Homo sapiens: one gene and its partner. The protein of the gene in region 1 purifies or fractionates together with the protein of each later gene. This does not show direct contact. Each region holds a gene or a part of one and is shown in the gene's direction. Other genes may lie near its edges.

Evidence for each region. Proteins that work in one complex are often made in the same cells at the same time.
Region 2: the proteins of ITGB3 (region 1) and PDGFRA purify together in Homo sapiens (affinity purification with western blotting, with the first as the bait; one study listed by BioGRID). This does not show direct contact.

The regions. Positions count from the first base shown.
Region 1 is NC_000017.11:47,256,768-47,260,361, forward strand, and holds part of ITGB3 (integrin beta-3 precursor), read left to right. Parts: intron 1-3,594. UniProt on the Homo sapiens protein: Integrin alpha-V/beta-3 (ITGAV:ITGB3) is a receptor for cytotactin, fibronectin, laminin, matrix metalloproteinase-2, osteopontin, osteomodulin, prothrombin, thrombospondin, vitronectin and von Willebrand factor.
Region 2 is NC_000004.12:54,270,762-54,274,355, forward strand, and holds part of PDGFRA (platelet-derived growth factor receptor alpha isoform 1 precursor), read left to right. Parts: intron 1-1,632; coding exon 1,633-1,759; intron 1,760-2,775; coding exon 2,776-2,969; intron 2,970-3,594. UniProt on the Homo sapiens protein: Tyrosine-protein kinase that acts as a cell-surface receptor for PDGFA, PDGFB and PDGFC and plays an essential role in the regulation of embryonic development, cell proliferation, survival and chemotaxis.

The DNA.
Region 1 (3,594 bases):
GTGTCTTCCTCGTGTTTAGGTTTTTATTCTGACCTAATTAGGTCTAAGCTGAGGTGCTTATTTCTCTTCTGGAGTTTATATCCTAGAAGCTCTCCAATCGAAGCCCTCTGCAGGTATCCTCAGGTCCTGGAGAAACACAGCAGGAAGGCTTGTTGGCTTCGGAAAGGGAGGGCTATGGTTTAAAGCCAGTAAGATGTGGGTTTGATTCTTGACTTTGTCTCCTGTAGGCTGTGTGGCCTTAAATAAGTTACCTAATCTCTTGAGTCCTCAGTTTCCTCATTTGTAAGGCAGAGGAAACAATGCCTATGATTATGCTGATTAAATGAAACAGAGGCACAAAATAAGTGTTTAATGAATGACAACTACTATTGTCATTATTCTTCCTATCCATGCTATCTGCCATGTATTGGAGGCAAAAGCTGTTACTACTTCATGCATATGCGCTATGCAGGCTTCCAGAATGAAACTGATGGGGTCCCTTTCCCCCACATATGTGAGAGGGGGTCCCTCTTATTTCAACTCGTTCCTCATTGCTGGTTTGGCATATCTCAGCTACTCTAACCCGGCAAGAATCCACAGAAGAAGCCAAGAAGGAAAAAGGCTTATACATTTGCTTTACCCATAAGAAAACCTCAAGCCCTGTATCTGAAAAAAGAGGAAGATAAAAGGATCTATAAGACTTCAAGTTCCATGAGAAGAGGGACATGTCTATTTTGTTCAATACTCTATGCCCACTGCCTGGCACATAGGCAGCAAAACAAATATCTGTGGAATGCTATGTAAAGGCATCTATAGATGATGTGCCTCCCTTTAAGAAACCCAATATTTGAATATTTGCACTCATTCATACAAGATCCTCAAGTGCTCCGTTTGGATAATCTGGAGGGTATGAAAACATAGCCAAGATCATGAATTCTTTGGGCATTTGGGCCGCTGCACTGTTGCACCATTTAGACCTGTGATCTGAGAGTGTGAAAAACTCAAGGGATCCTCTGTAAAGTGTCTGCCTTTTTTTCCCTCCTGGGAGGAGCCGTTAGAAGGGCAACATTCTCCTTTCTCCCCCTTGGACGTGTGGGTGTTGGGGCAAGGGTGAGGAGTGACAGAGGTCTCCTGGGAAGACCATAAGATGGGGCAAGCACACCACAGTGAGGAGGGGGAGTCTGGCTATGACTTTAGAATTTCCTGATCGAAATTTCTCCTCTAAAGCTCCCCACCCTACTTGGGATCTGAGGTTATCATCCCCTCCCAGTCCCAAGAACCCTTCTTCCCTTGTTGGCAGAAATCTCCAGGAAGCATGCCCACAGGAACCACAACTCATGAATCAGAAGACAGATAATTAACCGAGGGAGTGACTGAGCAGCTTCAGGGATGAACCGCTTCGTTTTACCCAGCCCTCTCTGCTGCCCACAGAGTGGGCTGCTCCACCCCATCGCCTCTGCTCCCTCTTCCTGAACCTTGGCCCTTCCTGAGTGGGACCTTCATTGTGCCTGATGGAGCTCAGGCCACTAGTGGAAATGAAGGTGGGAGCAGGGAAATGACTCTGTTTAGGGGAACTGCCTATTCCCCGTGTGGGAACTGCTGGCATTTATTGAAACGTGAGACTCTCCAGCAAAAAAGTGATAGCATCTGCCTTTCTGTCCACACACACAGTCTCACCAAAAACACTCTTTTTTTTTTTTTGTTAGATAATTCAGGTATAATTTATGTACAGTAAAATTCACCCTTTTTAGTGCATACAGTTCTATGAATTTTGACAAATGCATATAGTCAAGTAACCATTGCCATCATCAAGATACAGAATTTTTCCATCATCCCCTAAAATTCCCCCAAGCTCTTTTTTTCCCTTCTTTTTCTTTCTAGAGGCAGGGTCTCACCATATTGCCCAGGCTGGTCTCGAACTTCTGAGCTCAGGCAATCTGCCCACCTCGGCCTCCCAAAGTGTTGGGATTACAGGCGTGAGCTACTGTGCCAGGTGCCCCCCCAGCTCTTTTGTAATCGATACCCTACCCTCAACCCTCGTCGGTTGCAACTGCTGATCTATTTCCTGTCCCTGCAGTTCTATGTTTTACAAAATGTCATATAAATGAAAGCATGCAGTGTATAGACTTTCAGTCTGGCTTCTTTCACTTAGCACAATACATTTGGGGTTAATCTATGATGCTGCATCTATCAGTAACTCTAAGACATTGTCTGAGGCCACTCCGTCATCCTCCGTGTTGGAACAGTTACCCTGAAAGCAGTGGGACTGGATCCGTTAAACTTTGGAGGTGCTCCCCAGCTTTCAGCTTCTAAATTTTATAATTGGATAGATGTATTTAGCTATATATAAGTCATTAGATTTTCCATGTGCTAAGTAGTTAAAGACTTCAGGATACTAGAGAGGATTCTGTAGCAACCAACACTTATTATTCTTGCTCATAGGAGTAACAGATATTTTGTGGCCAAATATTGTATGTCATGATGCTTGGAGTCAGAAGTTGTTAAGTAAACCTGGGGGCTATTCTACCTTTTTACATTTTTGGTAGCATCTCTGAAAAAACAACCCACTTGACTTTTTTTTTTTCCTTTTTTTTGGGAGGGTGGGTGGGTGGGTGGCTTTTTGGCCAAAACCAGAAAGCTTGCTAGACAAATTCTAACACTAGATCTAACACTAGATGTCTTATTTCTGTTTTTCTGTCATGTTCCCATGAAAAGACTATTTACTTACCCCCCTCTCTCGGTTTTATAGTTGAGTTAGTTCAATTTCTTAGTTCAGTTAGTGAAGATGTTTAAATATTCAAGGAGAGAAAGAAAAAGAACAAGGTGATACACATTTTAAAAAAGTCAAAATAACAAATATTGTTATTTCTTGGCTGGGCGCGGTGGCTCATGCCTGTAATCCCAGCACTTTGGGAGGCCGAGGCGGGCGGATCACCTGAGGTCAGGAGTTCAAGACCAGCCTGACCAACATGGAGAAACCCTGTCTCTACTAAAAATACAAAATCAGCTGGGCATGGTGGCATGCGTCTGTAATCCCAGCTACTCGGGAGGCTGAGGCAGGAGAATCGCTTGAACCCAGGAGGCAGAGGTTGCAGTGAGCCGAGATTGTGCCATTGCACTCCAGCCTGAGCAACAAGAGCAAAACTCTGTCTCAAAAAACAGAACAAAACAAAACAAATATTGTTATTTCTCAAATAGGTTCATCCACATAGGATCATTGTCAGTCGTTAAAATTGCTGGTTCCCTTCTAATTCTATTCCCCTATAATGTTCATATTAATCAGGTGGTGTGTTCTGTTTAGACATTTCCCCTCGCATTTATGTTTATTTGTGTGTGTGTGTGTATTCCTTTACTTAAACCCATGATATATAGTACTTCCTTTTATATAGAAAAAAGCTCAGTGTGGAAAGAACAACGTATCTGGAATTAAGAAACCTACATTCGATTCACAGTTCTGCAGGCTTTTTCATCAGCTTGCTGGGTGACTTTGAACAAGTGACTTTACCTTTAGGCATCAGTCTCTTGGTGTCCCAGGGGCTGCAAAGTGGGACAGAGAAGATGAAGGGAAATACTTCAATTTGCTCCTGCCCCTTCCCCACCACCTTCAACTGGAAC
Region 2 (3,594 bases), on another chromosome or scaffold:
GTATAAAGATAATGCTAGCTCTGTAGATGAGTGTCTTCCAAGGAAAGCCTGGCACTTTTCTCCCCGGTCATGGAAGAAAAGCAGCACTTAGGGGAGAAGCAGTGTCTGCATATGTCACATATCGGGAATACCTCTGCTGGACTCATGAATTCAGGTATTTCTGGGAGGTTCTGGGTTACTCTAGAGTAGGCGAGGAATCCCTAGGCTCCACCAGCTAGCTTTATTTTTGTAGAGATGGAGTCTTGCCATGTTGCTCAGGCTGGTCTCCTGGGTTCAAGCTATCTTCCCACCTTGGCCTCTCAAAGTACTGGGATTACAGGTGTGAGCCACTGCACCTGGCCTCCACCAGCTTACTTAGCACCTGCTTCTCAATCTGAGAAGAGAGAAGCAGATGACCTTAGATTGTTCTGGAGAGTTTTGCTACAAGTTTTCCTTATAGACATTGTACAGTGGTCCTTACCAGAAGGGAGTGCCCAAGTCTGTTTACATTCAGGCTCAGCACCTATCCAGAGTCCCAGCCATGAGCCAGGTGCTGTCTGAGGTGCGCTCATGTGATCCTCACAGTAAAACCTGTGATACAAGCAACACCGTATATCTAATTTATTTGACCACAGATTTAGAAAAGAATCTTTAAAACCTAATAACATACCACAGATGCATTTTGGTAAATGCTGCTTTAGATTATACTTTAGCTGAATCCATTAGTTGAATCCTAAGCTATAATATAATTTTAAGAACCTCCTTGCCTTTCAAGCCAAATAACCAAGGGACTTTCTCTCTCTCTTTCCCTCCCTCCCTTCCTTCCTTCCTTCCTTCTTCTCTCCCTCCCTTGTTATCTCTTTTCCTTTCCTTTCTCTCCTTCCTTCCCTCTTCCCTTTTTCCTTTCTCTCCTTCCTTCCTTCCTTGCTTCCTTCTTCCCTCCCTCCTTTGTTCTCTCTTTTCCTTTCCTTTCTCTTTTTCTTTCCTTCCTTCCTTCCTCACTCACTCTTTTCTTTTCCTTTCTCTCCTTCCTTCCTTCCTTCCTCCCTCCCTCACTCTCTCTTTTCTTTGCCTTTCTCTCCTTCCTTCCTTCCTTTTCCTCCCTCCCTCCCTCCCTTGTTCTCCCTTTTCCTTCCTTCCTTCTTTCCTTTCTTCCTTCCTTCCCTCTTCCCTCACTCTCTCTTTTCCTTTCTCTCCTTCCTTCCTTCCTTCATTCTCCCCTCCCCTCCCCCCTCCCCTCCCCCTCCCCTCCCCCCTCCCCCCCTCCCCTCCCCTTCCCTTCCCTTCCCATTTTTCTTCTCACCATGTTGCCCAGGCTTGCCTCAAACTCCTGGGCTCAAGTGTTTCTCTTCCACCTCAGCCTCCCAAGTAGCTGGGGCTACATGTGTGAGGCATCACAACCATGGACTTTTCACTTTCTTCACTCCAGGTTAAAAACATCACAGGGATAAATCTCAAAACACCAAAACTGTGAAAATGCTGCTAACCATGTGGGTCTGTCTAAACTGGAGTGTTACTTGTACAACTGGTTTCAGCCCCTCCGGAGTGTTTTGAATGCCATGTAGATGAGTTGTGAACTCATATTCCACTTTGTAGTCTCATATGTTCTGGGACACGAGCTATTCCATTCTGACTTCTTTCTGCCTCTTGCAGTTCCTTCATCCATTCTGGACTTGGTCGATGATCACCATGGCTCAACTGGGGGACAGACGGTGAGGTGCACAGCTGAAGGCACGCCGCTTCCTGATATTGAGTGGATGATATGCAAAGATATTAAGAAGTATGGAAAACAGATGTGTCTTCTTCTTTCGTGGTCAGAATATTTCTCCCTTGACACAAATGATGTCAAATACATTTTACTTATTGACTATAAGATAGGGTTTTGGGTGTGATAGCTTCAGGGTGTGTATCTTTTGTCATGAATAGCTGTGAGAAGAAGGTCCAGGGCTCTCATTAGACCTTCAAAATGTCTCCAATCTAAAAACAAGAGTGAATTTTAAGAACCACTGTTCTAAGAAGATTTTTACTACCCTGGCTCACATATCTTATTTGGTGAACTTTGTTTGGTAGTCGGACTGCATGTAAACATAAATGTGACTGCTTAGTCCCTTATCTGCCCACCTGCTGTTTGGTGGGTTAATTCGCCATTCCCTCCTCCCTCCCCCGAGTCCTCAGCCTTCTTAAATGGGCACATGAGCAATGTGTTTACACTTCATCCATGGTAACTGGTTGTGTTCAGAAGCCTCAGTTGTTTCTTCCTCTAGACAGAGACTCCTCATCTTAACTTCTAGGGCTAAGAACAGACTTGGATGTTGACTGGGGTTTCTAGTAGATTCCAGTGTGGAGCAGGATTCTAGGTCTTATAACTCAATCTGAGGATCATCGCAACCCTAGTGACACCCTAGGGGCTCTTCCCAGTGTGAGTGTTGAGAAGGGAGGGCTCCAGGCCTTTTTGAAGGGGTGGGAGATTGAGATCATTAAATATGGTTGAAGTTGAACTGTTCAGTTTGCTCATAGGTTCAAGATTGGGGAATGGTAGTCATATTTTATTAAACTTGATTATCTCTGCCTGCTATGTAAACACTTAGCTTTCAGTTGTTCATGTGTGAGTTATTCCCTCTTCAGCACATGCAGACAAGTTTTAATGTTCATCTGCATGTAAAATAAATCAGTGTGTATTGCCCCGAAATGCAGACAAGGTCCCAACTCCTTGCCATCTTAGAGTGTTCCCGTGGCTCCACTCATTGCCATGACTCTCAGGAATTGGCCCTATACTTAGGCCCTTTTTCTCTCTAGATGTAATAATGAAACTTCCTGGACTATTTTGGCCAACAATGTCTCAAACATCATCACGGAGATCCACTCCCGAGACAGGAGTACCGTGGAGGGCCGTGTGACTTTCGCCAAAGTGGAGGAGACCATCGCCGTGCGATGCCTGGCTAAGAATCTCCTTGGAGCTGAGAACCGAGAGCTGAAGCTGGTGGCTCCCAGTGAGTTCCTCAACAGTCAGGACAACTCATCAGCTGAGCCGCATCTGCCCCAGGCGGAACTTTGAATCCCAGATAGGGGTTATATAGAAATGAAGGTCCCAAGGCAGAAATTCAGTTATGAATGCTCTTAAAGTCATGTGGGACTTTGTTTTATTTTGTTTTGTTTTTTGAGACAGAGTTTTGCTCTGTGGCCCAGGCTGGAGTGCAATGGCACAATATTGGCTCACTGCAACCTCTACCTAGGACGTTGTTTTAGATTCAGATCCAAAACTGCATTTTTGCAGAGGCCCCTCAACATTTTGCTTGTCTAATAATATAGCTACAGTCTCTACTTTGAATGTCTGTGTATGTGGATGGAGTGTGGGGAAGGATCTTCTGTCTCATTGCTCCTTAAAAGATAGATGAAGCCAAAAGCAATATAAGCAAAATGCAACTTACAAAATAAGCTTTATAATAAAGCATATGAAGTAGAGGTGTCTGCCCATATAGTAGCTGTCAATTGCATTTATCCTATTCAAATTCTGTCCACAAGGTTACTGTTGGAGCAACTTTGGAGAAAATACTGAGTTCTCCTGATTGAATTTTGTCCCCTTCTTGTATAAGGAAAGAGTTGATGTAGTTTCCT